2 separate regions of the Homo sapiens genome follow, and region 1 is linked to region 2. Evidence: fine-mapped expression QTL. A gene starts in region 2. The other region holds a variant in brackets. All regions are shown on one strand. Distances are between the middles of the regions.

Region 1 (2,892 bases), 51 kb before region 2:
GGGTGTGGGGAAGGTGGCTGCCACCGCCGTGGTCCACAGGGCCTGGCCAGGGCTCCATGGGGCAGAAGCCATGCCCAGCTCAGGGGGCTTCACTCCACTCTCCCACTTTGACCTGGTCCCTCCCCTCTCCCCCAGAGTGACCTGGACACTAGCCTCCTCCCAGTGGGAGACAGATGTGGGCAATGCAGCTGCTGTTCCCTGCTCAGGGCAGGCTGGTGCCCAAGGACTGCCCACCAGACCAGGGGATAAGAGGTTGGCAGCATCGTCCATGGTTATCCCACAGCTAGGAGGCTGTGGGTGTGGGAGAACATGCTGGGTAGGGGTGCCTGTGTGCCTCTGGAGTCGAGGCAATTAGAGGCCCTGTGGAAGCCCCTGCACGCAAGGGGCCCACGCGCCAGGGCAGAGGACATAGCCCCTTCTTGCTTCCCTGAGGGACGGGAGGCCTGTGGACTTCTGGACACAATGGCAGAGTCAGGGCAGCCAAGCCGGGCCAGTGCCCTGGAGCCGAGTCCTCCCCCCACCTGCCCACATGCCCCACCCCTCTCCAAGCTTCTCCCCTCATAGGATCCCAGAGCCCCTTGGGACCTCTGTGAAGACTGCATAGATGTGAGGGAGTCTCAGCCTTAGGGTGGGCACCTGGGCGCAGCTGTCAGGCCCCAAGTCAGCCCCAGGCACGTGGACCTGGGAGCCAGCCTCAAGGGCAGGGGTCCCCGAGCATCCCCACTGCTGCCCCGCCAGCAACCGTGTCACTGGGAGGCAAGAGGCTGGGTTCCTGGGGTGGGCAGGCTTCCCCGCTTCACTCCATTTGCAGCCCCTGTCTTGCAGAGGCAAAATGGAGGTTCAGAGAGGTGAGCAAACACCAGGTCCCATGTTTGCACCTGGCTGTGACCGTGCAGTCCACTGGGCCCAGCAGCAGGAACTGGGGCAAGTGCCCCGAGACGGGACCGAGACAACAGTGGGGAAGGTGGGACAGGCAGCTGGGGGAAGGCCAGAGTGTCCAGCACCAGCGCCAGGGGCCGTTCCGACAGGCTGAGGAGCGGCGGGGAGCGGGGCTTGCCAAATATGTCCAGATGGGGCTGGAGCCCCAGCAACTTCCTGCCCTCCCAGCCTGCTCCCCCACCTCCTCACCCCCTTCCCAGGCTGTCAGCAGGGGCTGGGGGGCAGCAGAACCCCACTTAGCCACAAGGAGTGCAGCCAGGGGCTGGCTCCCGGGAGGACATGGGCAGAGGCTTAGGTCCCCTTACACACACACACTGCTGCATTCGTGCAGGATGGGCTCAGC[G/A]CCTGCTGTGCCTGGCGTGGCTGTGTGCATGGCATGGTGGTGGCATGGTGGGAGTGGTGTGGCACATGGTGTGGCACATGGCATGGCTGGGGCTGGGGCTGGGTTGTGTAGCATGTGGAGTGGCAAGGTGCGTGACATGGTGTATGGCATGGTAGTGTGCCCCTCGAGCCATGTGTCCAGGTGGGGCAGATCATGGAGGGCGCCCAGGTGCGGTGCTGAGGCTGAGCATGCACTGGCTGGGGAGGGTGGGCAGAGCAGGAGGAAATCCCTTGTTCTCCGGAGCTGGAGAGCCAGAAAGAGCCCTGCAGCCTGGGCCTCATCATCACACCTCGCCCTCAAGGCCTCCAGGCACAGCATCCACTGCCAGCCTCTGCTCCTGCCTCTGAGGGTCTGTCTCCAAGGTCTTTTGGGGGCTGCCCCAGCTCCCCCAACACAGACAGCACCAGAGCTGGGCCCACCTGTGAGGTGCTGAGTTCCCCATCTCAGAGACTGTGCGAGCAGAGGCAGGGAGGCGCTTGATGTCGGATGGAGAAAGGACAGGGGAGGGGTGTGGGGCTCAGGGCCCCGCCAGGTGAAGGAACAAGCTTGGAAGGGTGTCCTTATGTCTGAGAGTTGGGGAGACACCCCCAAGCCCCAGATGGGCCTCGAATGCCAGGCAGGGCCAAGCTGGGCCCAGAAGTGGGAAGGATCCCTTGGCTGCCCCAGGAATGCAGGTTCCGGGGCAAGAATCCAGCCCTGGCTGGTTGAAGTCCATCCCAAGTCTCCCTCCCCACGAGGCTCCTGCAGATGCCAGGAATGGGGCTGGATTCCAGATTCCAAGCCTGGCCGCCCAGCCCCTATCTGGGACCCCAGCCCAGGGCCCCCAGGCCTGGCCTCCAACCTGGCCCCAGCCTCAGGGGAGCTGAATTCAGAGAATCCTGTCCTAGGAGCCAGAAGCGGGGGAGGGAGGGAGGGCGGCCCTGTCCTGGGTGCAGGCCCGGGGGCTGGGGGCTGCCCGCCCGTCTGGGTCAGCCGCAGCTGCAAACCGGCCCTGGCTGAGTCATGGGGCCTCCATCTCCAGGCCTGGCTTGAGGTGGGAATAGCAGTGAGGTTGGACATCCAGGCACCTGGAGGGTGGGCAGGGCTCCCTGCGGCTGGGGTGGCCAGTGGCACCTGGCTGTTGCCCCCCTGCACCCCAGCCCTTTGGCCCCCAAGTCTCTGCCACCTCCCTGGGGTTCTGCTCCCATATTCCTCACACCCAGCACAGAACCCAGCATGTCTCCTGTAGACACCTGCATATAAACCCTGACTCACACACACACACACACACACACACACACACGCACACATGCAGGCCAGGCTCCTCGGCCAGTCACCCTACCGGCAGAGCTCTAGACATTTCTGGCCTCTGGTGACTATTCTTCAGGCAGCTCACCCTGCAAGTCTTTATTGAGCACCTACTGTGTGCCAGGCAGTGGTACAGCAAGGGCAGAAGCCCCACCTCCAAGGAGCTGACCCCCTGCCGTGGCAGAGACAGAAAACAAAGGCAGCACCACAGCGACGAGGGCCTGAGAGGAAAGTGGAGCAGGAGCCTGCAGCATGCTGGGGCAGGGGTGTCTTTAGAAAGGGTA
Region 2 (2,892 bases):
AGGGGGCCGGGAGAGGGCGCGGGGCGCGGGCCGGCCGGGGTGGGGGCGCCGTCCCCGCCCGCGCCGAGGTCCGCGGCGGGTCAGCTTTGTTTACGTCGCCGCGCAATGTGCTGTGTAAGCATTTCCCCTTGTCCCGCGGCCAAGCCCCCCGGGGCCGCCGCCGCGCTTAACCCCCTCCACGCCGTGCTCACGGCGCCCGGCCGCGCCCGGGGAGGGGCTCCCGCGGCCGGGGGCGAAAACTGCGCTCCCGGGGGGTCGCGGCCGGGATTCAGCCTCCCACCCCGCCCGCGCGAAGCCGCTGGAGGGCACAACAACGGGGCGGGGAGGGGGGTAAGGGCGCAGCCGCGCCCTGAGCGCTGCGGGCCCTTTAATGCCACGGGAGGAGGCGGGAACCCAGCGAGGCCCCCGAGGGCTGGGGGGACCGGCCGGCCGGACAAAGCGGGGCCGGGCCGGGCCGGGGCGGGGCCGTGCGGGGCTCACCGGAGATCAGAGGCCCGGACAGCTTCTTGATCGCCGCGCCGTTGGCGCTGGCGGCCGCGGTGCCGGCCGCGGGACGTCCCGAAATCCCCGAGTGCAGCTGGTCAGCGAGAGGCTCCTGGCCGCGCTGCCCCTGGTTCGCGCCCTGCTCGGCGCTCTCTTGAGGCGCCGCGTCCGGGGCCGGGGCCGGGGCGGGGGCCGGGGCCGGGGCCGGGGCCGGGGCTGGGGCCGGGGCCGCGACTGGAGCCGGGGCCGGAGCCGGAGCCGGAGCCGGGGCCGGGGCCGGGGCCAGGACCGCGACCGCGACCGGAGCCGCGACCGGAGCCGCGACCGGAGCCGGAGCCGGGGCCGGGGCTGGAGCCAGGACCGGGACTGGGGGCGGGGTGGACGCCGGGGCCGGGACCGGGACACTAGGCAGCTGCTCCGGCGCCTCCTCGAGGCCGTCGAGGGACTCAGCGGCCGGCTCGAGGGGCGGGCTGACAGCCACCGCGACCGCGACGGGCCGCGGCGCCAGCAGCAGGCGGCAGCGCCCCACCTGCACCGTCTCGCGGTAGAACGCGGGCACCGAGTCGCTGTCCACTTCGGTCCACTGCAGGCGTCCAGGGCCCCGCAGCGGCATGTCCTGCTGGAAGTCGTAATCCCAGCGGTTCTGGTCCTCGGCGTTCAGCTCGGCCAGGCGGGCCTGCAGCTCGCGGCTCAGCTCCTCGTGGTCCACCGGCCCGAAGAGGCTGCGGCAGGCGCTGGTGCGCACTAGTACTGGGAAGGTCCCACGGGCGACAAGACGCTCCATCGTGGATGTGCTGCGGAGGGACGCGTCGGACATGGCCCGGGGCTGCGCAAACGCGGGCAGCGAGAGAGGAGAGGACAGCGAGAAGAAGGGGAAAGGAGAGGAGGAGAGGGCGGAGGCCGGGCGCAAGGGAGACCCCGCGCCGCCCGACTCTGCGTGTGCGAGGGACGCGGCGGCTACCTGGCTGTCCGGTGGTGGACTCTTCTGCGTCGGGTTCGCCTGTCTCGTCCGGACGGCAGCCGCGCCCCCTCGATGCCTGCTGGCTAGCTCGCTCGCTCAGGCCTGGCCGGCACCCCTCGAGCACAGCGCACTTGGCCTGTGGAACGCCCAGCCCGCCTGCGCCCCCTTTATACGCGCGGGCCCCACCCCCGTGCGCGCGGGCCCGGCCGCGATTAGCATAATGTAGTATTTTCAGTTTCAACAACACCACGGCGATTGGCGGCCGCCCCGCTGCCCCGCCCCGCCGCGGCCCGGCCCCCGCGCACCGCCCATTGGCCGCGCGCACACCCACCGGGGGCGGGGCGGGGCGCGCGGCCGGGGCGCGCGGCTGATTGGCGGCCGCGGGGCGAGCGCGCTGTAGCAGGGGAAGGGGGCGGTGAGCGGGGCGGGGGCGGGAGTTAAAGGGCGCTGCGGGCGGTAACGTGACACCGCGACGCCCGCCCCCTCGCCCCATCCCCCCTGCAACACTCCCCCACCCCCCCGGCTCCCGCCCCCCGCCGGCTCCTTTGTCTGCAGGCGGGGGCCTCAGCCCAGCGCGGCAGGGGCCGGCTCCTGGCGGGTCCGGTGTCCGGCCAGGCCCAACTCGACCCCGGCCCGGTCCGGACCCCGGCGCCCAGCTCCGTCCCGCGCTCGCCCGTGGGCCTCCTGCGCCAGCTGACGAGGCTTGGACCCGCCGCTGCCAGCTCGGCCCTGGCCTGCGCCGGATGGGGTCTTCGGCTGCCCCCGCGCGGCCTGCTGCTGCTGGGCTGGTGTCCCTTCGAGGGCTCCGCGCGCCTGGAGCCCTCACACACCTGCTGGCCCTAAGGCCCTCGAGTCGGGAGGGGGGACAGGGGTCAGCTCCACTCTTTCCCCGAGGGACCATGTGTGGGACACCTTGAGAGACTCCCACCAGCCCCCTGGAGCTGGAGTCTGAAGCCGCTATCTGCGGAGGCCCACCCTGCCCAGTAGATGGAACAGGGGCTGAGCCCATCATGTCACTGTCGGGGGTCCCAGCCCTTCTCAGCCTTGGGCCAGACCACTCCAGCCCCGGGATCTGCCTGTCCAGGCTGGCTGGAAGCTGTTGTACTGGGTAAAAGTGAAAGATCTGCCCGAGGTCATAGGGGAAGGGGCTGTGAAGGACCATGCCCCTCCCCCGCCTGCAGCCCTTCCTGGTACAGACCTCGGTCGTGCGCGCACGCACACACACACACACACACACACGCACGCACACACACGGTGCTTCACCCCAGCCAGGCCAGACCAAAAGAGACCATTATTTCCTGCTGCCTCCCTTTTGGCCCACCTACCATGAGGCAGGGAGCCCCCTCCTCAAACCAGGAGCCTCCCAGATCGGGATGGGGACTGTCAGACACCTGTTGGAGGGTCCAGCAGCCCATGAGATCTAAGCCCCTATCTCAGGTGAGCCTGTG

Evidence for each region. PIP is the estimated chance that this variant, and not a neighbour inherited with it, causes the effect. A credible set is the group of variants that fine-mapping cannot tell apart.
Region 1: its variant is the best candidate, but not a certain one, in a credible set for the expression of CDKN1C in whole blood (TOPMed, PIP 0.61).

Annotation. Positions count from the first base shown.
Region 1 is chr11:2,832,826-2,835,717 of GRCh38, forward strand. The region is part of intron 15 of KCNQ1 (potassium voltage-gated channel subfamily Q member 1); the gene reads left to right. Among named protein-coding and RNA genes, the nearest start is that of KCNQ1-AS1, 27 kb to the right of the region's middle. RefSeq lists an enhancer at 2,144-2,892. The variant G/A (reference allele first, on the strand shown) is at 1,283.
Region 2 is chr11:2,884,190-2,887,081 of GRCh38, forward strand. It overlaps CDKN1C (cyclin dependent kinase inhibitor 1C), which reads right to left and starts at 1,586. Exons shown (of 4, transcript NM_001122630.2): 1 at 1,445-1,586; 2 at 481-1,277. The coding sequence starts at 1,267. RefSeq lists enhancers at 576-1,411, 1,412-2,247, 2,248-2,892.